7 linked regions of the Homo sapiens genome follow. The protein of the gene in region 3 purifies or fractionates together with the protein of the main gene of each other region. This does not show direct contact. Each region holds a gene or a part of one and is shown on either strand. Other genes may lie near its edges.

Evidence for each region.
Region 1: the proteins of SLC22A17 (region 3) and TXNDC15 purify together in Homo sapiens (affinity purification with mass spectrometry; one large-scale study listed by BioGRID and IntAct). This does not show direct contact.
Region 2: the proteins of SLC22A17 (region 3) and MTCH1 purify together in Homo sapiens (affinity purification with mass spectrometry; one large-scale study listed by BioGRID and IntAct). This does not show direct contact.
Region 4: the proteins of SLC22A17 (region 3) and NUP210 purify together in Homo sapiens (affinity purification with mass spectrometry; one large-scale study listed by BioGRID and IntAct). This does not show direct contact.
Region 5: the proteins of SLC22A17 (region 3) and EMC8 purify together in Homo sapiens (affinity purification with mass spectrometry; one large-scale study listed by BioGRID and IntAct). This does not show direct contact.
Region 6: the proteins of SLC22A17 (region 3) and SEC63 purify together in Homo sapiens (affinity purification with mass spectrometry; one large-scale study listed by BioGRID and IntAct). This does not show direct contact.
Region 7: the proteins of SLC22A17 (region 3) and DNAJC16 purify together in Homo sapiens (affinity purification with mass spectrometry; one large-scale study listed by BioGRID and IntAct). This does not show direct contact.

What each region holds. Positions count from the first base shown.
Region 1 is NC_000005.10:134,876,964-134,881,325, reverse strand, and holds part of TXNDC15 (thioredoxin domain-containing protein 15 isoform 1 precursor), read right to left. Parts: intron 1-4,362. UniProt on the Homo sapiens protein: Acts as a positive regulator of ciliary hedgehog signaling. Involved in ciliogenesis.
Region 2 is NC_000006.12:36,979,284-36,983,645, reverse strand, and holds part of MTCH1 (mitochondrial carrier homolog 1), read left to right. Parts: intron 1-1,973; coding exon 1,974-2,058; intron 2,059-4,362.
Region 3 is NC_000014.9:23,349,624-23,354,422, reverse strand, and holds the start of SLC22A17 (solute carrier family 22 member 17), read left to right. Parts: upstream 1-1,535; 5' UTR 1,536-1,681; coding exon 1,682-1,777; intron 1,778-1,971; coding exon 1,972-2,475; intron 2,476-2,567; coding exon 2,568-2,671; intron 2,672-4,799. UniProt on the Homo sapiens protein: Cell surface receptor for LCN2 (24p3) that plays a key role in iron homeostasis and transport.
Region 4 is NC_000003.12:13,315,735-13,319,531, forward strand, and holds the end of NUP210 (nuclear pore membrane glycoprotein 210 precursor), read right to left. Parts: intron 3,592-3,797; coding exon 3,496-3,591; intron 3,422-3,495; coding exon 3,338-3,421; intron 2,048-3,337; coding exon 1,947-2,047; 3' UTR 501-1,946; downstream 1-500. UniProt on the Homo sapiens protein: Nucleoporin essential for nuclear pore assembly and fusion, nuclear pore spacing, as well as structural integrity.
Region 5 is NC_000016.10:85,778,124-85,780,334, reverse strand, and holds the end of EMC8 (ER membrane protein complex subunit 8), read left to right. Parts: intron 1-467; coding exon 468-627; 3' UTR 628-1,711; downstream 1,712-2,211. UniProt on the Homo sapiens protein: Part of the endoplasmic reticulum membrane protein complex (EMC) that enables the energy-independent insertion into endoplasmic reticulum membranes of newly synthesized membrane proteins.
Region 6 is NC_000006.12:107,898,862-107,903,223, reverse strand, and holds part of SEC63 (translocation protein SEC63 homolog), read left to right. Parts: intron 1-225; coding exon 226-380; intron 381-1,706; coding exon 1,707-1,854; intron 1,855-4,362. UniProt on the Homo sapiens protein: Mediates cotranslational and post-translational transport of certain precursor polypeptides across endoplasmic reticulum (ER). Proposed to play an auxiliary role in recognition of precursors with short and apolar signal peptides.
Region 7 is NC_000001.11:15,529,474-15,533,835, forward strand, and holds part of DNAJC16 (dnaJ homolog subfamily C member 16 isoform 1 precursor), read left to right. Parts: intron 1-4,362. UniProt on the Homo sapiens protein: Plays an important role in regulating the size of autophagosomes during the formation process.

The sequences.
Region 1 (4,362 bases), on a different chromosome or scaffold from region 3:
CCTCTGCCTAGGAAAACCAGAGACCTTTGTTCACTTGTTTATCTGCTGACCTTCCCTCCACTATTGTCCTGTGACCCTGCCAAATCCCCCTCTGCGAGAAACACCCAAGAATGATCAATAAAAAAATAAATAAATAAATAAATAAATAAATAAAAAGAACCTATCCAAAATGAAACACACAGGAAAAAAAAAAAGAATGGAAAGAAATTAAGAGCATCAGTGGGCCGTAGGACAATTTCAAGTGGTCTAATGTACAGTAACTGGAGTACTGGCAAGAGAAGAGAGTGGAGGAACAGAAAAATATTTGAAGAAATTATAGCCAAAAACTTTCCAAACTTGGTGAAAACTATAAATCCATAGATCTAAGAAGCTCAACAAAACCCAAACTCAATGAACTACAACAAAGCACATCACAATCAAATTGCTCAAAACCAGTGACAAAGAAAAAAATCTTTAAAGCAGCCAGAGGAAAAAAAACAAAACATCATGTAGAGAGGAACAAAGGATAACAACAGGTTTCTCACTGGAAACAAAGCAAGCAAGAGTGCGACTCCATCTCAAAAAAAAAGAAAAAAATGATTTTGGCTGGGCATGGTGGCTCACGCCTGTACTCCCAGCACTTAGGGAGACCGAGGCAGGTGGATGACTTGAGGTCAGGAGTTCCAGAACAGCCTAGCCAACATGGTGAAACCCTGTATCTACTAAAAATACAAAAAAAAAAATTAGCCTGGCATGGTAGCGGGCGCCCGTAATCCCAGCTGCTCGGGAGGCCGAGGCAAGAGAATCGCTTGAACCCAGGAGGTGGAGGTTGCAGTGACCTGAGATAGTGCCACTGCACTCCAGCCTGGGCTACAGAGCGAGACTCCATCTCAAAAAAAAAAAAAATAATAAGTGAAATAAATACTTCTTCACTTCTTCAGACATACAAAAGATAAAAGAATTCATTACCAGCGAACCCACATGACAAAAATCTTCAAGGAACTCCTTCAGGCAGAAGAAAAATGTTAACAGATGGAAATATGGATCCACATAAAGAAATAGAGAAACCAAAATGGTAACTACATGGATAAATATACACAATTCTTTCCAAAAATCTAGCTATAAAGGGGGCGAGGAAGGTAGGGTAGATTCGCTACAGGCAAGGAAGACTAAGGGAGGTTTCTATTTTGCTATTTGGAACATAGGAGCAATCTGAGGATACACAAAGCTGATGAGAAAGCAGGTAAGAAGGGGCTGGGCGCGTGGCTCACACCTGTAATCCCAGTACTTTGGGAGGCCAAGGAGGGCGGATCCCTTGAGGTCAGGAGTTCGAGACCAGCTTGGCCAACATGTTGAAATCCCGTCTGTACTAAAAATACAAAAATTAGCCAGATGTGGCGGCATGCACCGGTAATCCCAGCTACTTGGGAGGCTGAGGCAGGAGAATCACTTGAACCTGGGAGGCAGAGGCTGCAGTGAGCCGAGAATCACGCCACTGCACTCCAGCCTGGGTGACAGAGCAAGGCTCTGTATCCAAAAAAAAAAAAAAAAAGGCAGGTAAGAAGGGAGAGGTGGCAATGGAGGTTACATAGGACAGAGTTTAAGGCTTGGGCAGCAAAGTGAGTCTTTAGCAGAAGGTCAAGCACTTCTGTGACTACAATCCAGAGAAGCGGCTGGGTGCCTGGGAAGGGAGCTTTGCCAAATTGGTGGAGGGGCGGGATCACATTGGCGGTATTTCTATAGCCTTTTATTTCTATAGCCTTTGGTTAATGAGTGTGTATTGCCTGTATGATCAGAAGAAAAAACAAACACACATGTTTTCTGTGTCAGCCACAAGACAAAGCAGGAAATGAAGCCAGAGAGGCTAAGAGTCTGGAAAAGAAAGGATGCCAGGTTTGGGGTCCAACCCAACTCCCAAACACCACAGTTCTTCAGAGATTTGCTCTTGCTACCTAATCAACATTCTAGATTCCACAAGTAAATGAAGAATGCCAAAACGAAGAACCTCAGGATAAAAAAATCAGGGCACAAATTTTAATCTGGTTCTCTCTGATGACCCTCAGATAGCCCCTGCACAAAATCAAAAGGGAATGTAAGTGGTGCATGGAGCTGGTATTTTAAGTTCAAGAGTGTTGTCCCCTCCATCCCCCTGCACATTGTAAAAATATTTAAGTACACAGTACAGATTAGGAACAAAAAAATCTTATGCCTTCAGGTACCAACGTTTTCATTTAGGAATTAGGAAGAAAAGAAACACTGAATTATTCCACACGAAAATAAAAATGTCATACTATGTGACAGTCATTGAACCCTCCCTTGGTAATGTGCTTTTATTTTTTATTTTCTTTGAGACAGAGTCTTGCTCTGTTGTCCGGGCTGGAGTGCAGTGGCACGATCTCAGCTCACTGCAGCCTCCATCTCCTGGGTTCAAGCAATTCTCCTGCCTTAGCCTCCCAAATAGCTGGGATTACAGATGCGCACCACCACACCTGGCTACTTTTTTTATTTTTAGTAGAGATGGGGTTTCACCATGTTGGCCAGGCTGGTCTCAAACTTCTGGCCTCAAATGATCCAGCCACCTCGGCCTCCCAGTGTGCTGGGATTACAGGCGTGAGCCACTGCACCCGACTGGTAATGTGCCTTTTAAGAGACTGCAGTTTGAGCTATACATAAAGTGATAATTATTGCATCACTGGCAGCAAAGAAGTTGTCTGAAGGACAAGTGTGAGGGCACCATGCCAATTCTGCCAGGGAGCCCTAGCCTAGGTCAGCACCTTCACACCCTTCCAGCTTTTCTCAGAAGGCTCTTTACCAGCTGCAGGTGTTTTCACAATGGCTTCTGGCAGGAAAGGCAAATGAGGAGGGACCAAAAACAGTCAAGGGTTGGAGGGACAGCAATCCATACTTTCCATAGGCAATACTGTGTGCTCATTTAGCAAATGGAGACAATACCACCAAAATGTAGAAAATTATGAGGCTACTGTGAAGATTAAATGAGAAAAGATGTGTATGGTCCCTGCCACAGGTTAAACACTCCATAAATGGCTGTGGTGATGATGATGATTATGATGAGTGGTGTTTACAATTCAAAGAGATGGAAAGGCACAATAACTAAGTTCTATTAATTAACCTGCACACTGGGCTTGCTGGTTCATACCTGTAATCCTAACACTTTGGGAGGCCAAGGCAGGCAGATTACTTGAGGTCAGGAATTCAAGACCAGCCTGGCCAACATGGTGAAACCCCATCTCTACTAAAAAATACAAAAATTAGGCCAGGCGCAGTGGCTCACGCCTGTAATCCCAGCACTTTGGGAGGTCAAGGCGGGCAGATCACCTGAGGTCAGGAGTTCGAGACCAGCCTGGCCAACATGGCGAAACCCCATCTCTACTAAAAATACCAAAAATTAGCCGGGGTGTAGTGACGGGTGCCTGTAATCCCAGCTACTCAGGAAGCTGAGACAAGAGAATCGCTTGAACCCGGGAGGCAGAGGTTGCAATGAGCCAAGATCGCACCATTGCTCCAGCCTGAGCAACAAGAGCAAAACTCCATCTCAAAAAAAAAAAAAAAAATTAGCCAGGCATGGTGGCGCATGCCTGTAATCCCAGCTACTCGGGAGGCTGAGGCAGGAGAATCATTTGAACCCAGGAGGTGGAGGTTGCAGTGAGCCAAGATGGTGCCACTGCACTCCAGCCTGGGTGACAAGAGCAAGACTCCTTCTCAAAAAGAAAAAAAAAAATTTCACCTGCTAAACACATTCACAATCCATCTACTTTCCCCATCCCAACTAACACTTCTCAGCAAAGGCCACAGCCAATTCTTGTCTGGGCAACTACTGTAGCCACCTAAACTGGTCTCCCTGGTCAGCCTGCTATCCCCCCTCCAGACCCTGACCTTCACAGCAATACAAGTGAAACTGAAAGATAAAAGGCATATCTGATCATGTCACTCCCCTGCTAAAACTCTTTCAGTGGCTTCCCCTACCCTGTGAATGCATCTGCATTCTGTAGCAGAGCTACCAGGCCCCAATGTGGCCTCTGTCTGCACTCTCACCTGTGGCCATCAGATCCCTCTAGTCCCTGATCATTTACACTCCTCCTATCCCCACCTGCCTTAGAGCCTTCCTGAGGGCTGTTTCTCTGCTGGGAAGCTTCCTCCTGCCAAATCCTTCATCCTCCTCATTCAGATCTCACCCTAAATGTCACCTCTGTAAGGACACATTCCCTGACCCTCAGACCAGGGTGGGAGGTCTCCCATTACAGTTCCCAAAAACGCCCTGGGACTCTCCTTGATGCATTTCTCAGTCTTGCAATTTTCTTAGTAATTTGTAGTTATTTAGTGGCTGCCTTCCCCAAAGGCCTGCTGCTCTAACTCACCACTGGA
Region 2 (4,362 bases), on a different chromosome or scaffold from region 3:
AGCATTTGCCGTAGTTAGGACTGGGTTAACAGATTTGAGGTTGAAATTGGGTTTAATGACTTGGGAACAAATAATTAAAACTTGAAGGCAGGAGGAATGGGGGTGAGATACAGCCAGTGTGCCTATGATAACCCAATAGAAGTTAAGAAAATAGATTCAACAGATTTGGGAGCCATGGGGATATGGGATAACGTTACAAATTTAAGTATGAAATTGGGGTCAGTGGGACTCCCAAATAGTGTTGACTAAACTGGATAAGGACAGCAAAAGAGCAGTTGTGGCGATTTGGAGTGGAGGAATAAAGGAATACCACCTGTATTTAAGAGAACACAGATCAAGACAAAACTTAATTCAGAACAACCTTGGAGCTTTTAACCCAGAAGGGAAAAGGTCTAGAAGGGAAGTACTCACTGCCTGGGTCAGCTGACTCACCCCTTTCCTCCTTTGCTCCACTGGGTCAAAATTTTTTTCTTTTAAAGACAGTCCCCATCATAGAGGAGTTTTTAAATTTACAATCATTAATCTGTTAGGCATCTCAGAATCAGATCCATAGGAGATAGCCTGAACTTTGAAAAGCACTTGCTTGATAAAGGCAAAAGGGGACAGGGTTGATCCCAAAAAGCACTGGAAGCATACCTAATCCAGTTTACAAGGTAGCGCTTTCTAACTTGCCACTTCTACTGCCTCCCACAGCTGCAGGCCAAATCCTCTCCCACATGTCAGAGGAATCGCTCTGGTCCATGGGCCCAGCTGGCCTGCTTAGAGGGCACAGGGCTGGTATCCTGGCCCCTTGCCAAGGGAGGAAGGAGCCTTCTCACTCCCCACCTAGGTGCTGGTCTCCTTGACACCTTGCCTCCTCCCTGGCAGCAGGGGCTCTCACCCCTCGACAGAGACTTCCTGCTCCTCACATGGATATGGATGGTCCTTCACCCACCCGCGGGTTTAATAAATATTTCAGGCTGGGCGCAGTGGCTCATGCCTGTAATCCCAGCACTTTGGGAGGCCGAGGCGGGTGGATCACCTGAGGTCGGGAGTTCGAGACCAGCCTGACCAACATGGAGAAACCCCGTCTCTACTAAAAATACAAAAAATTTGCCGGGTATGGTGGCGGGTGCTTGTATTCCCAGCTACTTGGGAGGCTGGGGTAGGAGAATCACTTGAACCCGGGAGGTGGAGGAGGTGGAGGTTGCGGTGAGCTGAGAGCACGCCATTGCACTCCATCCTGGGCAACAAGAGTGAAACTCCATCTCAAAAAAAAAAATAAATAAATAAATATTTCAGATATAAGAAGCATCTGTACAGCAAGAACTATCATAGCCCTACAGAAATGAGGGGGTCGTTTTGTCACAGGGATGTAGGGTGATTGAGGTGAGAACGCAGCTAAGGATATGTTTGAGGAGTAGCTGGAATTTGAGGTAACAGTTTGCTAAGCCTGGGAATGGGAGGAATAGACATGGAGGTGTCTGCAGTAGATTTGGTAAGAAATTTGAGTTTGGGGTGCACTTTGGAATAGATGACTTAATGGCTGACCTGTCTGAGGTTTGGGTATGATGTATTTTCTTATTGCCACATTTGGAATTGAGGTTGGAATGAAGTTTTTCATCTGGAGATGAGAATAACTGAGATTTGTTCTGAGATGGGAGTAGGGTTTGCAGTACATACAAATGGAGGTTTCTCTACTGGGAATATTTGGGATTTGAATGTAAGAATGTTGGGGTGTGGGTGTGACTTGGATTGTGGTTGGACAGTGTCTGGGACCAGGCATTTCTGTTGATTGGGAGTTTACGTGCTGCCAATGGTTAGAGACACTGACGAGCTTTCTGGTATGCTTTGATGGGGAAAACATGAACAAGAGCCACATTAGAATTTGTGGGAGAAGAGTTAAGCAAAGGGGGCAAGAGGTGTGAGGAGAGGTGGTGAGGCTGAATCACCACGAGACTCTGAGCGTCCCTTTGTCTTTGTTAATTCTGAAGGTGGGTCATGAGCCGATGCCCCCCACCCTTGGGACCAATGTGCTGGGGAGGAAGGTCCTCTATCTGCCGAGCTTCTTCACCTACGGTGAGTGTGCCTCCCAAGCAGGAAAGCCCACACCAACAGAAAAGAGGCCTCAGGTGGGGAGCAGGACCAGCTGGCCCCGGGGAACTCACTGCGCAGCATGGCACGCAGTCGAGCTGGCATGGAGGAGGGGATCTAAGCGTGTACAGAGAGGACATGGTGTCGGGGTGCGAGCAGGTGAACCATACAGCTTTGGTCCAGCTCCTCTGCCTGTAGCTGCCAGCTGCCAGCCCAGACAGCAGGAGGGGACAGACACAGGTGCCTGAGAGAGGAGCCAATCTAGGACACTGGTCCCTATTATTTCTGCTGCCCCGGGTTGTGCCTGGAACATGCGTGGGGGTGATTTCCTTTTGTCCTGTGAGCAGCCTGGCCCTGCTACTCCAGCAGGAGGCCCGGGGGGTCCTCTTGAGTTTTTTTCTTTTATCCCACCTGGGTGTCTTGTTTCCCCTGCATTCCTCAGGCAGTGAGTGGTGCTCACTCACTCTGGTGTCTCCATCTGTTGGTTACAGAATGGTGTGCAGTGAATTGCAGCTTCACTTCTGTGTGCTGCGTGAGTTTGGGTGGGCCACTTACCTGCTGTGGCCTGGCTGCACCCCTTGTCTGCAAAGTAAGGTCAGCTTCTCCTGCCCAGGCCTTCCTGCAAGCTCCCCAACTGTCATCAAGAAGCCCACCTTGCTGCCTCTGCTGCCCATCACCTGGCCCACAGGTGCCGTCTGGCCAGGGCCTTTTCATGTTCACCCTCACTGTCCCTCTCCCAGTCCCTACCCTCACCAGATGACCATGATGAAGGCCTTCTTTAAATGTGCCCTTTTTCTCCGTGTTCACAGCTGGAGTTCCATTGCAGGCAAATCCCCTCCAGTTTCCTGCACCTCTGCTCTTACCTGTTTGGTTGTCTAGAATATTCTCCAGAATCTATCTTTCTGTTGAGTAACTTGGGGCTTGGCCTCTGTCTTACCTTTTCCATTTCACATGCTGTTGGCAGAATTGGGTGTCATATTTCTCTTCCAGTTTTGTCCCTGTGTTGTTGAGTGCAGAGTCTAGGGCCAGGTGGAATGTGTCATCTTGTGAGGAAATGTGTTTGTGTTGTTTTTTACTTAAAAATTGTCAGCGTAGTGGAGAGGGGAATGACAGAAGTAGGAAGGCACCCCACCATTGTGTAGTGAGGCAGTATACAGAGAGGTAAGGCAGCCGGGGCAGATGGCTGCGGCCCTGCACGGGGCTTTTTCTGGATCTGGTTGCACGTGCTGTGTTCTGAGAGGCGAGGTTAGAGCCCAGATCATCTCTATTCATGTGACACAGCCATTCCCAAAAGGACTTAGAGCAGAGGGAACTTGACCCCCATCTTAACTGTCTCTTTTGAGGATGAGCAGAGTTCTCAGGTGTGCCCCCAGCCTGGTTTATATAAATGTAGCTTTAATCTAGGTGTGAGCAGATGTCTGTTGGGGATCTCTGGACACCAGGCCTACTCTGGAGTCAGAGAGGGGACCCGCCATTTGGCTCTCTGGTACAGTGTGGACAGTGTCTGCTCCTCTACTTGTCATGGCTGAAAGTACTGCAGCTGTCATGACATTCTCTGGTGTAGAAGAAAGAACTTCCCAGAGGGTTTCCTGGCACTGCAGAAAGACCCAGAATGAGGGAGGCCCTGGGACCCACAGAGGCCCCTGCAGGCATTTCAGCACGCCTCCCTCCGCTCTCACTTGTTCCTCAGTTCTCTCAGAAATGGAGAGAAATGACGGTCCTTATTCCTTCTTTTTTTACAGGTGGGCAGATGGAAGAGGGTCGATGTTTTGCTCAGGATCACAAACAGAGGTCCTGAGGCTCCCTCTCCTCACTAGGATCCACCCTCCCCCAAAGCAAATTTTCCTTTTGCCTGTTCACTCTGTGAAGAGGGCTCCTTGCCAAGTCACCCAGCATCCCCTCCCCTCCTCCTCCTCTCCTTCCAGCCCACCCTCATCTCAGGCAATCACATATACAGGTAACAGGTGTTCTCAGCCTCATGAAAAACCCATGCTAGCTGTGACATTGAATTGCTGGGCTGGCAGACATCTGCGGAGGAGCAAAAGGCATATTTGCTTCTTCCTGCCTCTGCGCGGTGCCAGAGAGCTAAAGTCATGGTCTAACAGGGGGAGCATGCTGTCTGAGAGAATGTTCTGCTAGCTTCCAGATGCACAGGTTTATAAAAATACCACCCTGCCATTTAAAACATGTTTAAAATGTTGATAGAAAACAATGAATCGTATCCTTAGAAAGACAGACCCTAGTGAAAGAAACACTAACTCACACAGGTAGGGTCTAGCTTCCATAACA
Region 3 (4,799 bases):
GAAGTGAGATGGAACTACAGACAGCATGTGACCAGGCATGTAGAACCATGTATGAGGTATCTAGATTTTTAATATTCACTTTGACAGTGAGGAGACACCACTGAAGGCTGGTTAGCAGGAAAGATACATGATCAGATCTGTATTTTGAAAAGATCATTCTATCTGACTATAAATGACATATGGGTGATAAGGAGGTATAAACAAAGCGGACGCTGAACACCAGTTAGGAATTAGGGAGCTAAAGTGGTCTTTGCAACAGGTAGCTTGACTAATAATGGTAGAGATGGAGAGATGTGGGATGTCTGAGAATATATAGGAAGTAAAATGGGCAGAATTTTGTAAAGAATTCAACATGGATAAGGAAGAGAAAGCTCTAAAGGCTGTTGCCTGAGCATTTGGCCACAATGCGATGTTGAGGGTGCCATTCGCTGCAGAAAAAAGCAGTGGAAGCCAACCAAGTTATGGGGGAAAAGCAAAAATTTCGTCTTGAACATATTGAGTTTGAGGTCCCTGTGAGTCATCCAAGGTGAAGGTCAAATAAGAGGTGGCTTCATAGGTCTGGAGCTCAGAACAGAGGTGGAAGCTGGAGATGTCAGTCTGGGCGTCAGGTTTGTATTGTTTGTATGGGTGGTGATTGAAGCTGTGGGCATAGGTAAGATCCCAAAGTGGAGACAGTGTGAGATGAGAGGAGGGCCTAGGACTAAGTCTGTGAGGATTCCAGACACTGAACCATGGTGTCTAAATGATACAGACGGGAATGGCCCTAGAAGCCAGCACCACAGCCTCATCACTACCAATACAGACCCCTCCTGCAGTTGCGTCACCCCGCTGGACTTCAATCATTGCCTCAAGAACCGGGAGGATAATGGCCTGCCCATGCTCAGCACCAATGCCATGAGCTGGAAGACGATTTCTGCAATGGAGAAAAGGGGAGCAAGAGAGACTCAGCAGCAAAGGAAGAGAGTGTTTAGAGGAAGAGGGGTCAACAGTGCCAAATGCTGTTGAGAAATGGAGATTCAAACAGGATGGGAGTGATGAAACCCAAGAAAGTGGTCTCCTTGTAGAGGACTGAAGCTAGGGCTGATACAGGGCCAAGACAGTCTTCCATATGCATAAGTTGTACTGTAATAGCCAGTTTACATGTCTGTCTCCCTGGAGTAAAGGTCTCCAAAGTGGAACTTGTCCACCCTGTTATCCTTAAAGTCTAGTGCAAGTCCTGGAACGTAGTGGACACTTAAATTTTACTGATTAGTGAATGGGTGAATGAATGAATGAATGAATGATGGCAAATGATTGGAAGCAGAGGAAGAATCTCTGGCATCTGCCTGGACTAGCTACTATCCTTCAGCTTTTTTTCTTTTTTACCGCAATGGCCCGCAGACCCAGGAAAGAGACGACAGAGCCCCCCTTCCCTCCCTCCCCTGGGCCCTGGCCCCCCTTCCTCTCTCTGACGAAGAGTCTGGACCGAAGGTTCTGCTGACGTGGGAAGGGGAGGAGAGTCTAGAGGAAGGGGAGGGGAAAGCAGCGCAGAGATCGCAGAGACCAAGGAGGCGCCCGCGGCTGCAGAGCTGCAGAGCGGGATCTCTTCGAGCTGTCTGTGTCCGGGCAGCCGGCGCGCAACTGAGCCAGAGGACAGCGCATCCTTTCGGCGCGGGCCGGCAGGGCCCCTGCGGTCGGCAAGCTGGCTCCCCGGGTGGCCACCGGGACCCCCGAGCCCAATGGCGGGGGCGGCGGCAAAATCGACAACACTGTAGAGATCACCCCCACCTCCAACGGAGTAAGTGCCCGAGCCCCAGGTGGCGACGCCATCCTCTCCCAGCACCCCCGCCCCCGCGGAGCGTCTGGCATTTTCCTCCTGCGCATCCCTCGCCCCTGACTGCCTTCCTAGCCCTCCCTCCCACCTGCCCCCTGCCCTTGCTCTGCGGTTTCCTCCGCTTCACCCTTCTCCTGCCACCCCCTGCCCCCCAACAGCAGGTCGGGACCCTCGGAGATGCGGTGCCCACGGAGCAGCTGCAGGGTGAGCGGGAGCGCGAGCGGGAGGGGGAGGGAGACGCGGGCGGCGACGGACTGGGCAGCAGCCTGTCGCTGGCCGTGCCCCCAGGCCCCCTCAGCTTTGAGGCGCTGCTCGCCCAGGTGGGGGCGCTGGGCGGCGGCCAGCAGCTGCAGCTCGGCCTCTGCTGCCTGCCGGTGCTCTTCGTGGCTCTGGGCATGGCCTCGGACCCCATCTTCACGCTGGCGCCCCCGCTGCATTGCCACTACGGGGCCTTCCCCCCTAATGCCTCTGGCTGGGAGCAGCCTCCCAATGCCAGCGGCGTCAGCGTCGCCAGCGCTGCCCTAGCAGCCAGCGCCGCCAGCCGTGTCGCCACCAGTACCGACCCCTCGTGCAGCGGCTTCGCCCCGCCGGACTTCAACCATTGCCTCAAGGATTGGGACTATAATGGCCTTCCTGTGCTCACCACCAACGCCATCGGCCAGGTGAGGCGGCCAGGCGGGCCGCGGGTCTGGGGGCGGGCAGAGAGCGGCGAGGGCGGGGCCTCACGCCCGCTGCACCCTTCTCACATCCCCAGTGGGATCTGGTGTGTGACCTGGGCTGGCAGGTGATCCTGGAGCAGATCCTCTTCATCTTGGGCTTTGCCTCCGGCTACCTGTTCCTGGGTTACCCCGCAGACAGGTGAGGGCTGTCGTGGGGGCAGGGCTGGTAGAAAGGAGGGGGTGCTAGGGAAGCTAACCCAAGCAGCGGGCGTTTACAGGAGGTCGAAGACGATTCGCTGGACTCTGCAGTCTTCTCTGGACTTCTATTCAATGGTCTATCCATGTCTCAACTTCACTCTCCATCAAGAAATACCCCTTCCCTACCTCTTCCGCGCAAGGGAATGACTCGACCTCTATGGACTATTAGTCCCATTCCCACTAATTAGTGGCCCCCTATCCGTGAATCAATGGCCTCATCTCCAAAGAGAATAGTCTCATCCCCACTAACAGCCCACATGGACTGTTCGCTCCATCTCAGTGACCTCATTCCTGAAGATCAATATGTTAATTCCTAAACACCAACAGCTCCATTCCCACTGATCAATAGTTCAACTTCACAAACAAATTACCCCATTTCTGACCAGCGACCCCTCCCCTACAAGTCAACTAACTATCTCCAAAGACAATATCCTCAGACCCAGTAACCCACAGTCCCATGCCTGCCACCAAATGACCCAACGCTCTGTAGGGGAATAGCCCATAGATTAGCAGTCATACCCTCATGGATCCTCAGGGCTTTGAGATCCTCTCACCGAAATCCCCGTTTCCATGAGTCGGTAGCTTCACCTCTAGAGATCAACAACCCAATCCCAGCAACCAATAACTCTTCCCACAGATCAAAAATCTCATCTCTGATTCTGGTCACCTTCACCACTGACCAGATGCTCTCACTGCACTAAACTTCCGATTAGACTCAGCCCCATTGATCCACAGTTCCATCCAAGTGGATTAATAACTCAACTTCTGTGGATCAAAGCCATCCCAACATTCAATAGTCCAGTTCCTTAAAATCAATACCCATCCTCACTGCCCAATAGTCACACACCTCTGTGGGCCAATGATCCGAAACCCACAGGTCAATAGCCCATCCCTATGCATCAGTGGCCTCATTGCCACAGACCAGTAGCCTCATTCCTATGGAACCATGGTTTCATCCCCAAAGATCAATAATTTGGTCTTCTAAAATCTGTAGCCTTCAGCACATTAACCAATAAGCCCATCCTCATGGAAAAATGCCCCACCCCATTAGATCAATAGCCTAACTCCCAGGGATTGGTGCCCCTTTTGCAATGACCAGAGGCTCCCTATCTTCATCTCCATAGATCAATGGTCTTATCCCCAAAGATCAATAGCCCAGCCTCCAAGAATCAGTAACCATGTCTTCACTAACTCATAGTTAGTGACCATAATCACTTACCAATAGTCTCATCTCCCCTGGTCTGTGACCTTATCCTTACTGATTATTCCCATGGATTAATAGATTCATCCCACTGATCAATAGTCCTACCTTATGGATTAATACACCCATGTCTATGTCCCCACTGATCTTTCTTTTTTCTTTCTTTTTTTTCTTTTTTCTTTCTTTTTGAGATGGAGTCTCGCTCTGTTGCCCAGGCTGGAGTGCAGTGGCATAATCTCAGCTCACTGCAACCTCTGCCTCCCAGGTTCAAGCGATTCTCCTGCCTCAGCCTCCCGAGTAGCTGAGACTACAGGCACCTGCCACCACACCTGGCTAATTTTTGTATTTTTAGTAAGGATGGGGTTTCACCATATTTGTCAGGCTGGTCTTGAACTCCTGACCTCGTGATCTGCCAGCCTCGGCCTCCCAAAGTGCTGGGATTACAGGTGTGAGCCACTGCGCCCAGCCTGACCATTCTTAATGTATTAATAGACCAATGTCCCACCTCCATGGAACAATGGCCTCATCTCCAAAAATCAATTACTCAGTCCCCTAATATCATTGGCTTTACCTTCACTGACCAGTAGTATCCTCATGCACAAGTGGCCAATGGCCTCCCCTCCACAGGTTAATAGTTCCAACTCCGTATATCAATGAACCCCCCTCCCACATCTCCTCTGAACAGTCTGAGCAAGATAAGCTCCAGGCCCACTGACCATTAGCTCTGTTCCTAAGGATGAATGGTCCCAAATCCCCTAAGCAATATCCCATCCCCTCTGTTGAGTGATGTCACATCCATTGACAAGTGCCCTAATCTCTGACCAATAGCCCAAGAGTCAATGTTCCCACCTCTTAAAGAACCACAACC
Region 4 (3,797 bases), on a different chromosome or scaffold from region 3:
AAAACAAACGAAAAACAAAAACAAAACAAAACAAAACAAAAAAACATTTCCAGGATGCAGGAATGCACATGTAAGCATGCACAAAGACACACAGAGAAACAGAGAACGAGAGTTCACTTTTGGCCAGACTTAAGAATTCTAGAGAAAAAACAATCTATATGATGTACTATATTTTTAGTGCTAAATGGTGCTAAAAGCCTTTTCTGGCAACCATTAGAGACAGAGAGTTGCTTGGTTAGCTTGGGAGCAGAAAGCTGAACTGTGTGGCATCACCTGGTTTTGTCAATGTGCCTTCTTGGGCACACTCACTTGCTGGCAAGATCTGGCTGCGTCCAGATGCACTTGCATTTGCCAACCTGAATGTGCTTGAAAATGATGCTCACCCTTTGGGGAGAATAAAGCTCAGACCTCCAGCTCTGCCAGGCCCCAGAGTATCATAGATGGGTAAAGGGAAGAAATCATCACCATCAGACAGAAATCTCAGCAACGATCACACCCTCTTAAAAAATCACATAGAACTTTATTAAATAAACCAGTAGAAAGGCTCCTATTTACATCCAGGTTGTCAGTTTAAGCTCAAGTAATATGCAAGGCACAATTCTTCCTTTCTCCAGCTTTAGAAAAATCAACCACATGGCCCAGCCCTGAAGGACTGAAGGGAGCTTGTGCGGGATCCCGTCATCCTGGACTCTCCACACAGCGTCCACGCATGGATGGCCATGGGCATGAGTCTCTGGATCTCCCTGAGGGTAGCCCAGCCTCGGCCTGGAGCACAGGGGCCTGTGATCTGAGAATCTCAGATCCAGAATCAGGAGCTGGGAAGAGAGGACTTTTCCAAGGGTCTCCTCCCCCAGGCCCTGGGGAGTCCCTTCTGGATGGGCAGGCCCTGGGCTGGCGGCCGCCCTCCATCATTGGCCCAGGCCGGGCTCTAGGGCCTGCTGGGAAGCTGTCTGGGGCCCTGCGCCTGATGAGCTGCCATGAAAGTGGCCGCCTCTCACACTGGCAGGCGGTGGCTCAGATCTGCTGAGGTTCTGGAGTGGCACAGGAACAGGAGGAGCAAATGACACTGGGTCTTTGTGCTGAGGCAGGACACAGCGGCTTTCCGAAACACACACACAGAAAATATGACTCCTGCTGCCATCTCAAGGACATTTTCCTAAGGACAGTCCTGGTGTCCTGATGGAGTGAAAGGGATCACACGTGGGATGTCCCAGCAGGGCCTAAGCCAAGTCCATCAGATGTCTCAACGGCTTATGAAACAAAAACAGAGGACTGAAGTCTGTTCACAGTGGCCCATGGTTGGGCAGCAGCCCTGGGTGAGCTCCTGTGTTCTCCAGCCTCTCGCTCACCCAGGGCTTGGCTATCCTGGCCTCCAGGTGCTGGTTCCTGAGGCTTCCCTTGCGGCAGTGGCGCAGATACAGGGACACTCATGTCCCATTGCTCCTCAGAAGTCCTAGCAGCAGCCAGACTAGGGGCAAAGTAAGTTTTCACAGGGGGAAAAACCCCACCAAAAACCCCCTAAAGTAACTGGACAATCCTTTCCCTGAGACCACTACAGTAACATCACCCACAGACAACTTCTAAAGAGCACTTCTAACTGCTCAAAGTCTTGAGAAGGGAAAGATTTTAGCAAGGCTAGGAAAATAAAAATGCAACAGCACATTGTCCAGAAACCCTAGACAACCATGCAAAAAGGAATGAGCCAAAAAGTCTTAGCTTTGTAAGACTTGAAAGGAAAAAAACACACATTTAAAACTCCTACATAAAATGAGCTAATGGGCAGAGCCGAAACTACAGCTCTGTGTGAAGAGACGGCAGTGAAGCTGGCCTGGGGCCGGGGCACTCATCTGGAGGGGCTTGTTCCAGTGTGAATGCAGCAGGGATGTTCCATCTTGGGGGTGCACGAGGCTCGGCTGAGACCCATCCTCCGGGAACCTTCACGCGGCCTAGTGGGAGGCATAGGCTGGGCTCCACAGCCCTGAGGGAGGGCTGGCTTTGCGAGCAGGAGGCAATGCATTGGGAGATGTGGGTGATGAGGCAGCGAAATCTAGGGTGGGAAGAGAGACGATGTTAGCAGCAGAGCCAGGGAAAGCGGCGCACTCTTCAGTTACAGCCAGCATTCAGCAGGCGCCTGCCTCACCCAGGACACTCTCACAGTGATGCCCCGAGGCCTCCCCGGCCAGCAGAGGGAAGTCCACGGGCACCTGCTGAGCTGGCCTCATTCACACAGAGAGGCCTGGGATGCCACCCTAACACCCAGGAGCGCAGAGCCTTCCGGGGAGAACGTGTCTCAAGTTTCAGGACCACAGCAGCATCTGTCCAGGGGGCATGAGGCAGGGAGGCCCCGTGCATCTGAATGCAATGCAGCCTCGGGCAAGAGCGCCACAGGAACAAAGACCCCGAGGGGAGCAGCGATTCTGCAGTGCTCCGGAGACCTTGCAGAGATCCAGGTGTGGCTCCCAAAACCCAGGGAGGAGCACGCTGAGAGAGGCAGCTAGAAAGGGCAGGCACCTGCTGCCAGAGCAGCTGCAGAAGGCAGCAGAGCCGCGAGGAGGCCGAGCACCCGTGGCCTCCCCTGGGTGCCGCTTTGCAGGTAGAGAAGTCGTCAGGCAGAAGACAAGGGCGTGTGGGCTCTCCTTACCCAGGAAAGTGCTTCTACCCACACAACTGGGTCTTCTTTCAAAAAAATTCAGGGACCCCCCTGAAGCCGGTCCATGGGCCCCCATGTCAGCAGACACGAGCTCGAGGACTCTTTGTGTAGGGGAGAGAACCCTCAAATGGGAATCAGGAGACATTAAAGGGCCTTCACGTACAGCAGTACAGGCTGGGCACTGCATTGTTTGAGAGAGAAACTACATTCACACAGTGAGGTGCTCCCTGGAGCTGTGCAGGGTCACCAGGGCTTCGGGGTCACCAGAGAGACAGTTAGACCATTGAAATAAATGACTTTGCCCATTCTTCTGGGAAATTTCTCATCAGAACTACCCAGAATCCCCATCTGTGAGTCAGCTCGTCCAACCCCAGCTTAGAGCCTTCTGAGGCAGCCTCAGCAATTGGGCATCCAGTCCTAGCATGCACTCCTGCCTAGACAGAGCTCCTTGCTGCCCATACCTCCACCCAGCATGGCTCTACCTGGGGAAAGCTCTTGCTGAACCAGGACTGGCAGCCCCTCTGCCCCGACCCTCCTGGCTCCCACATCTGTCCTCTGGGCCTCAGGCTCCTTTGGCCCAGGCAAGGGCCTGTTGAGACTTAGGGTTCAGGAGCCTCGACCCCTCCCCCAGGGCTCTTCTCTTTCTCAGCAGCTCTGCCTGGTTGTGCCTGCAGGGGGGCTACTCACAGTGGGGGCTGTGTCCAGGGCTGGCTCGAGGCGTGAGGGCTGCAGGCACAGCAAGATCCCGGGGCGTGCAGACAGTGTGGTAGGCTGCAAGAGCACAGGGTTGGTTAGAGCAGGTCGGGGCAGGGGAACAGACCCAGAGATACAGGCAGCCTCCTCACCTATGATCATGACCGCTGTCCCAGCCAACAGGGCGAAGAGCGTGAAGAACATGACCTGGTAGGAATCCAGGAAGTGCTGGAAGAGGCTGGCTCCATCTGCCATCAATGGGAAGATGAGTTACCAAAACCACCAGGCCCACTGTGGCATCCCATCACGTTCCTGCCCTACTGTACGTCTACAGGGCAGTCCACAGGTCCCTCTTAGATGTAAGGATGGTGGTCTCAGAGGGCCAGGCCACCTGCTGGAGGCCCGGGCCCACAGCTGTTCTTGGTACCCTGGCACTTCTTCTCCTGGCGCAGGC
Region 5 (2,211 bases), on a different chromosome or scaffold from region 3:
CCCGGCCACGTGAGAGCCACTCTCACCCCGCCTGTGTTTTCAGTTAGCGTTTTCTCCAGAAGCATGATACCAAGCATATTCCCCGGCTCCTGTAGGCCCCAGTGTTCCAGCGCTTCCAGGCAGTAGAGGGAACCTCAGTGGTACCCACAGGTCTTCCCACCCCAGGCGCTAGAGCACAGACACTCTTCCCAGGCCTGTGCTTTGATGTATCTGTGGCCACTCAGAAAGCTTCAGTCATCTGCCTCCAACTTTCTCAGAATTCCACGTGAAAGGCGTCCCTTCCATGTATTAACCATGTCTTCTATGCTCTGTATACCTCTTCATGCGTTTGAAATGCACATGTTTCTCAGTACTCTGCACCATCTCTGTTCATACCACTGTGCATGTGGCTGGCCTTCTCTCTTGATGCTGTTACAAGCCGCCCGTTTTCACTGTTAGATGCTGACTTCTTCATGTTTGACCCGTAGTGACTACTGTGAAGACTGGCCAGAGGCACAGAGGATCTCAGCCTCGCTCCTGGACAGCCGGTCCTACGAGACGCTCGTGGATTTCGATAACCACCTGGATGACATTCGGAATGACTGGACAAACCCAGAGATCAATAAAGCTGTCCTACACTTGTGCTAGGCAGGCACCGCTGTGACTGGGCTCCGGGCCTTTCCACTACGTTGAAGAAGAAAACCTATTTTTAAATGTAAATAAAATATCTTGTAGCCTGTGTGGAAAGCTGACCGTTTTAAGAAGTGGCATGTGCCTTGAAAGGGGGCAGAATGTTCAGTCGGTCGTGTTTTTAACACAGAGTCTCTAGAAGAGGTGCAGACATCCCGTCTGACTGTCCCTGTGGACTCTCTCAGTTGTATGTTGCTATAATCCTCCAAATCAAAGCTCTTTCTGCTTGTGCAAGATTGTTCCTATTAAACAGTTTTAACTAACCTTTTATAATCTGGAGAGAATACTTTTTAAGGCTTTTGAACTATCTTTTTTTAAAAAAAAAAAAAAAAGCCCACATCTTATACTCCAATGAGTGTGTTTGTGAGTTTTTATCCTGTTTGAATTTTGATGTCGTCCAGGCGTCCTGGGATCAGGGTAGACACGTGGAGTGCTGGTGCTGAGCTGTTTGAGAAGCTCTGTGTGGGTGTTTCTGTGGTCAGGTAGGCTGGGCTGTGAACAGCACTGCTCCACATGGTGTCGGCTCACAGAGCCACCGCAACTCTGCCCAGCGGGAGTGACACCACTGATGCCACAGAAGCCTTTATCGTTAGGGGCAAAAGCAGACATCTCTGGTAGCAGGAGCTCAGTGTGGTGCTCTTCAGCCACGCAGAAAGCTCACGTGCCTGCAGGGCCAGGAAAGGGAAATGATCGTTTCTTTTGTATTAGGAAAAACAAGACTTAGACTTCCCGAGTTGTGCAGAGTGACGTCTGTACTTTTTATACTTAGAACATTTGGTCAAGTTTTGTAACCAAACCTTAGGGAATTGAGAGGGAAACTTTATGGTACGTTTACCTTTTTTCCTTTTTATATGAATTATTTTGTACAAAGTTCAGAGAGCGGTACCTTTCCTACTGTCTTTTCTTTGACTCCATGGAGGAATTTGTAACGATCGGTGTGACCTGAAAGGGTTTGTGATACAGCGGTCACTATTTTCTCTTAACACATAGGAAAAAAGTTCAGACATCGCTACAATAAATGTGCTTTATTTGATCCACCAAATTCTCTCTTCCCCTTTCTTCAAATACCTCTTACTCTTGATTTTTTAAACTGGCGTTCTTTCACGTGGGGAGCACAGGAAAGCGTGAGGTGTCTGTGCAGCCCCTTCTCTCCCCTGCCCTTGGATGCCAAAGCATCACAGCTGGAGCGAGGTGGGCAGTCTTGTTCCGAATGGGCTTGGGTTTGTTTCATAAAGGGAGAAGAATCACCTCCAGCATTTGCACGTAAGAAGCTGTTTTGTCCTGAGACTGAAACAGCAGCGTAGGCCCCTCCAGTTAGAAGTCCAGGGCAGCTGGCAGAGCTACTTGGAATGAAGGTTGGTGAAGGCTCGTTTGGGAGGCATTTTAACGACACAGCCCTCCTAAAACCCTTCAAGGTGGCTTTCCCTCTGCCACCTCCCTGTGGAATTCTTTTCCTTGGTTCTCCTCCTGCCTCCCAGGAGCATGTGCTGTCCTAAAACCCTTCAGGGTGGTTTTCCCTCTGTGTCACCTCCCCGTGGTATT
Region 6 (4,362 bases), on a different chromosome or scaffold from region 3:
AATAATTTTTCTTTTAAATCAATGGTTGTTGCTGGAAAATGTTCATTAGATCGAGTTTGTATATTTTTAGTGTCTTCTCTGGTAACTTTTAAAGGAAAATCTTACTATGATCCTCAAATTTGAGGTGTTATGGATTTAGTGTGAATTTTGTTTTTGTGATGAATTGTATACTCCTGAACATGTAAAAAGTCCAGCCCTGTTTCTTTTTTTCCTGTTCTTTCTAAGAAAGGGAGTTTCGTGCTCCAACTTTGGCATCCCTAGAAAACTGCATGAAGCTTTCTCAGATGGCCGTTCAGGGACTTCAGCAATTTAAGTCTCCCCTTCTGCAGCTCCCTCATATTGAAGAGGACAATCTTAGACGGGTTTCTAATCATAAGAAGGTAATTCTTTGCTACTTTAAAGTCAGTTTTCAGCAGTTTGTCCTGTCACTTAAAGGTAACATGAATAAAAGTTTTCTGGAAATGGTTACTATGCATTTTTTAGATTTAGAATGTCTTAAATACTCTAAAACTTTCTCTCAGGTGGTTCTGTTAACATTTTCTTGACTAGGTAGCTGTGTTTTATAGTATTTTACTACTGTAAGTAGTTTTATTATTTTGGGGGTTGTTGCATTTAAAAAGTCAACAGTTAGTTCCTTATATTATGTTACCAAAAATAAATGTACTGTCTACTTTACAGTCATTTTATTCTTGGCTTAAGGTTGGGCAATTGTTTACTGGTTAAGCATGAACAACAAAAACATTTAATAAATCAAATAAAGACAGTTCTTATTTAGAATATATAATCTATAGTATAAACATGATAATGAATCTTAAGATATAACAAAAATTTGTGTAAATGAAAAACTTGAGGAAATATAAGAAACTGAAGTTACAATTCTAGTAGGAGATTTTAAACATTATTTTGTATATGATAGATAAAACTAGCAGAGAATAGACATTGGATTTGATAGTATATTAATGTAGAATTAATAAATGCATGTTGGAAATTAGTATCAGAGTTCTCTGTCCTTTTAAGTACTCATGTTCCCCTTATAAATTTGATTGTATGTTAAGTCATAATTAAAAACTTCAGAATCTAAAAGCAGAGATTTTACATGCCTCATGATCTAATCTGTGTCTTTGAAAGTGAAAAATAACTAGCACCAAACACCTGGAAAATTAAAGAACACGCTCCTAAGTAACCATTTTGCCAAGATGGATATTACTGTAGTAATAGCTATATTTTAAGAATAACAAAAATGAGAATATTGCATAGTAAAACTTTGAAGGTGCGTCTTTATTGAGGTTTATTTTTACTTTTATTAGGTAAAAGTAAACGTTTATTATTAAAGGTTTGTTAATAGTAAACCTATTAATTGCTAATTAAAGGTTTTTGTTATTAAAATTGAAAATAAACTGAGGACATCAATTGACAAAGTTCTTGGTTGAGTCAAGATTCTTATTTTTTCCCTCCAACTTTGTTTTTTCTAATTTAAAAAAATAAGCCTGTATTAACTTTATAATTTAAAAATTCTTAATTTAAATTTTCTTGGAGAAAAAGGTCATGAAATGCCATATCGTTATTTTGTACTTTGAAATGCACATTAATCAACACTTTTCTAAAAGTTGCTGGATTTTGTTGTGGTTAACATGTGAGTAATTTTCTTTTTATGAAAAGCTTTGTGAGTTAGGGAATTATGTATTTTCTTTTTTTTTTTTATTCAGTATAAAATTAAAACTATCCAGGATTTGGTGAGTTTAAAAGAATCAGATCGTCACACTCTACTGCACTTCCTTGAAGATGAAAAATATGAAGAGGTTATGGCTGTCCTTGGGAGTTTTCCATATGTGACCATGGATATAAAATCACAGGGTAAGTGGGAGGTTTCTCTGTTGAGCATTGCTTCCCTTTTGATAGATTGGTTCTCATTTATTTGACTCAGGATTCTCAAAACACTGTACTTAATAACATAACTTGTTATTAGACTTTGCAGAACTGTAGTTTACCTGTCAGATTTACTATGTTGGAAAATGATTTATACCTAATAGTTTGAGAACACTGATAGAGTCCTACTTTTATTATCCTCATAATGGGATGAAGTCTGAACACTCTGTTCTGTAGTTCAACTTTTAGCAATTTCTTAACTTTCCAAAGAATGATGAAGACTTCCAGGCATAATAAAAGAATGAGATATTTGAAGTATATTATTAGTATGAAAGAAATAGCTGCCTAGTTCTAAAATTAAATTTTTAAAACCCAACTTATTTATGTTAATTAAATGTTGAAAATTACTGTGTTTTATGCCACATTTCATGTGTTTTTCTTGCCCTACCTCTATATTTTCTTTGAGGGAAAAAAATAAAGGCTATTTTTCTACCTATATAATTGCTCTGTGTTTCTATTTCAATATCTGAATGGTCTTAGAATACTGAGAGAATTAGAGACTATCTGCTCCATTCTTTCATTGTGGTGGTGGTCTGAGCTTTAACATTTGCTAAGTTACTATTATGAGAACATTCTTTTAGTTACCAAGAATACAGGGATATATTAATAATGGTTTCTGTCTTTATTTTATTTATTTATAAATAATTTTTGAGACAGGGTCTCACTCTGTCGTCCAGGCTGGAGTGCAGTGGTGCGATTTTGGCTCACTGCGTCCTCTGCCTCCCGGGCTCAAGCAATCCTTCTACCTCAGCCTCCTGAGTAGCTGGGACTACAGGTGCACACTACCATACCTGGCTAATTTTATTTTTTGTAATTTTAGTAGAGACAGCGTTTCACCATGTTGCCCAGGCTGGTCACGAGCTTCTGGGCTCAACTGCTCCACCTGCCTTGGCCTCCCGCAGTGCTGTGATTATAGGTGTGAGCCACCGTGCCTGGTTTGTGTCTTTAAAGAGAGCTTATTGTCTAGTTGAAGCAATAGGCTTAAAAATAAGATAAGGGCTGGGCCCAGTGGTGTCATGCCTTTAATCCCAACACTTTGGGAGGCCAAGGCAGGGGGATCACTTGAACCCAGGAGTTCGAGACCAGCCTGGGCAACATAGTGAGACCCTGTCTTTATAAAATTAAAAAAAAAACACACACACACCAAGATAACATATGCTAAGTGTTAACGTGAATGACACAGACATTGTACCATTTATTTATACAGCAAATATTGAATGCTGTGCACTCCTCTAGGTGCTAGGGAAGCAGTGGTAAGACATACCCTCTGCTTATTGAGCTTGTATTCTAATAGGAATTCTAATTGGGAAAGGAAGGCAAACAGTGCAATCTGGTTTCAGTTTGGCTGGAGTGTAGCATATGTGTTGTGAAAACTTGGTTTGCTTTGGTGAGGAGTTGGGGTTGCCTTGTGGGGCCATGAGTTTTCAGACTTTAAAAATACTAATTTAAAAGCTGTATTTAGGACTGTGCTGATTTAATAAAACTGTCCAAATAAAAATTTTGGGACTTAGAGATACTTTGTGATATTAAGAACTGTTAAAAGTATACCCTTTTCTTTTCTTTTCTTTTCTTTTTTTTTTTGAGACAGTCTTGCTCTGTTGCCCAGGCTGAAGTGCAGTGGCACTATCTGGGCTTACTGCAACCTCCAACTCTAGGTTCAAGTGATTCTCCTGCCTCAGCCCTCCCAAGTAGCTGGGATTACAGGCGTGTGCCACCACCATGCCCAGCTAATTTTTGTATTTTTAGTAGAGACGGAGTTTCACCATGTTGGCCAGGCTGGTCTCGAACTCCCAGCCTCAGGTGATTCACCCACCTCAGCCTCCCAGAGTGCTGGGATTATAGGCGTGAGCCACCATGCCTGGCCAAAAGTACATGCTTCTTAGAAAAATGAATATTAGAAGAGATTTTCTTATAGAAAGTAGAAATTTAAGAGTGTTCGGCCTCACTGACAAATATTACCATGGATCCACTCCATAGCATCTTGGATAGACAGTTTATTTATATTTTTACAGTGCTGCCTAATTATGTAATAATAGTGCTATAGTTGGTGAAGGAGGAGTAGAAGAAATATAGAAGCAGGAAAGGGGCATCTGCATGATAATAATGCTGGAGATGGTGGATCTCCTTCCCTACCTTGCTAGAATCTGTAATAGAATCTCCTGTAGTCCTTTTCTTCACTTTAAAGCACCAAACAGCAGGTCAGCATTCATGTAGTTATTTCACATGACCTGCTTGTGCACATACAGCTGTGCAAAATGAAAAATGTAGATGAATATGTGGCCCAGATTTGATTTTTGATAATGGAGACTTCCAGGGTGAAGAAGGGATACCATACCCTTTGTTGATACCCAGCTGCTGCACCTTGTAGCGGGTAATGGAGATAGCAATTGCAGATTATTGGAGGCCATTCTTTTCAACTGATGGTATGTTAGTAAA
Region 7 (4,362 bases), on a different chromosome or scaffold from region 3:
CTCCCTTTTAGGAATACTTTGGCTTAAAGAATTGCCTTAGATACTGTTAGCATATTTAATGTTAAAGTAACAAGTTTTAATTTTAAAAAAATGTATATATAGTCAATAATGGATATGCTACCCTTCCCATGATACATTATTCATAAAGTAACTTTATGAGTGTAATTGCTAAACAGGAACACTATACAACCCTATTCTCTAAATTATTAATTTCTACACTTTGAAAAAAAGTTAAGAGTAATAGCCTTTTGCCTCCAAAAAAAAAAATTCAGAAACCAAGGATAGTTGTCTCTTGATATCCATGAGGTCTTGGTTCCAGGATCCCCAGAAATACCAAAGTCATTGGATGCTCAAGTCCCTATATAAAATAGCATAGTATTTGCATATAATCTATGCACGTCCTCTCATATACTTTAAATCATCTCTAGCTTACTTATAATACCTAATACAATGTAACTGCTGTGCAAATGGTTGTTATACTGTTATTGTTTAAGGAATAATGACAAGAAAAAAGTCTGTACATGTTCAGTACAATGCAATTTTTTAAAAATATTTTTGAATATTTCAAAATAGAAAATATTATATTTTGGTTGGTGGAATCCATGGATGTGAAACCAACAGATATAGAGGGCTGACTATATATTACTCAAAAAAAAAAATTGGCCTGGCATGGTGGCTCATGTTTGTAATCCCAGCACTTTGGGAGGCTGAGGTGGGAGGATCGTTTGAGCCCAGGAGTTTGAGACCAGCCTGGGCAACATAGTGACACCTCATCACTATGGAAAAAAAAAAAAAGCCCAGAAGTTTGAGGCTGAAGTGAGCTATAATCACACCACTGCACTCCAGCCTGGGCAACAGAGTGAGACCCGTCTCAAAAAAAAAAACTTACAGAAAATTGTAATTTTGCCTGTAGTTATCAGGATAGCAATTAGCAGGGTAGCAATAAATCTAAAACTTTGGACAAATATCATCAGTTTCTTCCACCAATGCCTTGGCCATGCCAAAGAAGCAGAAGTGTTGGATTATATAGATGGAGGGGGAGCAGCAGAAGGAGGAAAGGACAGAGGTGACTCCAAGCTGGCTGTACCAACCATGAGGAATGGAAGAAAGTTTGGGACAGGTACCATCACTGAGCACCTACTACATGCTAATCTCCTGGTTCTATACTTTTTATCTCATTTAAACCTTATAATGAGCCTATGAAGGAGGATATCAGTATCTCTTTTTTTTTTGAGACGGAGTCTCGCTCTGTCACGCAGGCTGGAATGCAGTGGCACAATCTTGGCTCACTGTAACCTCCGCTTCCTGGGTTCAAGGGATTCTCCTGACTCAGCCTCCCAAGTAGCTGGGACTACAGGCGTGCACCACCACACCCAGCTAATTGTTGTATTTCTAGTAGAGACGGGGTTTTGCCATATTGGCCAGGCTGGTCTCAGACTCCTGACCTCAAGTGATCCGTCCACCTCGGCCTCCCAAAGTGCTGGGATTACAGACGTGAGCTACCATGCTCGGCCAGTGTCTCTGTTTTATAGATGAGAAGATGGAGGCTTAGAGTTGGTAAATCTGTGGTACCTCTGGGTTCCGTAGTTTGACCCTCTGCATCAGTAGTCCATTGCTTTATTGTTTTTTAATCATTTACACATCTAGGCATGAGTAAGGGTGAGTGGGCTAATGGTTGGCTGGGGAGGAGCTGAATGCGAGTAGGAAGTTATCCAGAAGCAAAACTGCCACATTGAGGTGATGCATGGTACAGACTGCATGCGTGACTGCGCCTGACACTGTTCTGCTTCAGTGAACAGGTATATTTTAGCATTAAACTGGTTGAAATAAAGGTAAAGATCATTGAAAATATATTTTTAAAATAAATGTTTTAGACCATATTCCATGAGAAATCCAGAATTGGATGCCAAAGAAGCAATCTCTAATTATACATGACCTCCTTCCAGGGACTCTTTATACCAAGGTTATGTTCTACATCATTTCAGACTCTTGCCTCTTTATGTTTAAAGCAGGATATATAAATCTGCAGCAAATTCATAAGGTAACAACATTCTTTTGGACAAGGCATAGCCTTTGACAATATTTTAAGAACACAAGTGACAGCTTGAGTATGTGGGACCTATTAAAATGTATAGCTTTGACTTTTCTGTCTTCCAGAGCTGAAAAGGGTGTTATGATATTAATTAAATGAGTCATATTCTTCTCTTTTTTAATTAGATTCTCTCTAGGAATAATTCATCACCATAGAAGTGTATTGAGTGTGTCATCCAGTAAAAGTCTAAAATTTTACTTTACGTTTTTAATTTTGCTCTACTATTATTTTCTGCGGTTTTGGCTATGACAATGCTTTGTCACTTGGAATAGTTTAAGTTTTGCTTACTAATGGCTTGATATACACTGAAAATAGCAGTGTTTCCCAGTTTGACTTTTCAGAATGAGCTATAGCAGGGGGAAGTGGTTACTTGTTGAGTTGGATCTGGAGCCTTCCTCTGATACATTTTACTAAGTGTTTCTTAGACTGCTTAAGAATTTTACTTTGCTTGGTGAAACCATTTGACTTTACTTTTTCCCTTAGGAAAACTATGTTTTTCTCCCAATAATTAAGTTTTATCGTAGGTACTTTTTGTTTGTTATCCACATTAGCAAAAGAAATAACTCCTCCCACCCAAAGAATGGCAGATTGGTGTGACGTGGTTATGCAATAAACTAACAGTAAATTATTTTGTGTAATTCTTTGCTGTATTACCTTCTCTATCTTTGTTTTTATTCCTTTAAGAGGTAACTAGAGAGCCAGTAGATACTACACGCAATATTTCCTCTACTTTGAATTTTAAAGATTGTGTATTATATTGCAGTTCCTGAAATAATTTCATATTAACTGAAAATAGCATTGGACAATACTTTCCTATGGCTGAATTTTTTTTTTTATGTTTTCAACCTTGTGGTGTCTTCCCACAATTAGGAAAGTATTCCGTATGAATACAGCTGAAAGTGCTGTGGTTTCCTCCCTGTTCTTCAGCCTTGCCCTCCTCTGTTTCAGGATCTGTGTTTTCTAACCTAGCTGCCCTCAAGACTCTCTCTTTGGTTCATTCTCCTAAAAAGCCCCTTCCTACCCTTCTTCTACAGAGTTCTATATGTTAAATCTTCATTTGTATGATTGCATAATTTTTGATCCACTCAGTCGTCAGCCTGATGGTTTGGTTGATGGGTTGGTTTTGTTGGTATTTTTGTGTTTTTTTTTGTCATCCAGAAATGCTTTGGAGTCTCCATCTCGTTTCCTTAAGTCATGCTGTTTTCATTATGACTAGCTGAGATTTTTTTCCCCCACTAATACTCATAGCAAGGATTAAATGGTTAAGGAAGGAATGATTTTTAAACTCAGCAGTCAACAATTTGGAGTTTCCTTATTTGTAGAGAAATCAGAATATGTGGTATAATTCATTCAAACACATTCCTGCTAGAATAAATCCATTAAGTTGTAGATTTTTTTTTATTCCAATGTGCTTGGTGTATCGTTAATAGTCATTTGCTTCCCAGTGAATTGTTTTTCTTTCCAGAACCTATGTCAGAGGAAATTTACTAGAAGTTACCAAAAGTGATTATGTAAAGAATACTGTCATACAAAGTCTCTTAAAGTGAACATTGAAAAATCAGTCCATATAAAACACTGATTTAGGTCTTAGGGGCTTTCAAGGAATTAAACCTAGCCCTTACTATCGAGAACTTTAAAATCTCCAAAGCTGGCCGGGTGTGGTAGCTCACACCTGTAATCCCAGCACTTTGGGAGGCCAAGGCAGGAGGATGGCATGAGTCCAGGAATTTGAGACCAGCCTGGACAACATGGCAAAAAATGTTAAACATGTGGCATTGAGGCCGGGCGTGGTGGCTCACGCCTGTATTCCCAACACTTTTGGAGGCCGAGACAGGTGGATCATTTGAGGTCAGGAGTTTGAGACCAGCCCAGCCAACATGGTGAAACCCCATCTCTACTAAAAATACAAAAATTAGCCGGGTGATAGTGGCGCAGGCCTGTAATCCCAGCTACTCGGGAGGCTGAGGCAAGAGAATCGCTTGAGCCTGGGAGGCAGAGGTTGCAGTGCGCCAAGATTGTACCACTGCATTCCAGTCTGGGCAACAGAGTGAGACCCTGTCTCAAAAAAAACAAAAAAACAAAAAAAACAGTGGCCTTGAAATCTTTATCCAGGTAAAAAGCAATCGTAATAATAACGAAAAATGTTCTAATTTGAAAGTCAGGCACAAGTGCAGTTTGAAACCTGATTGTTACTAAATGAATTTAGTCTATCCTAAAAGCTATTTCTCATGTCTACCTGTGTTATCAGAAGAAACAACAGCATTCTAGCA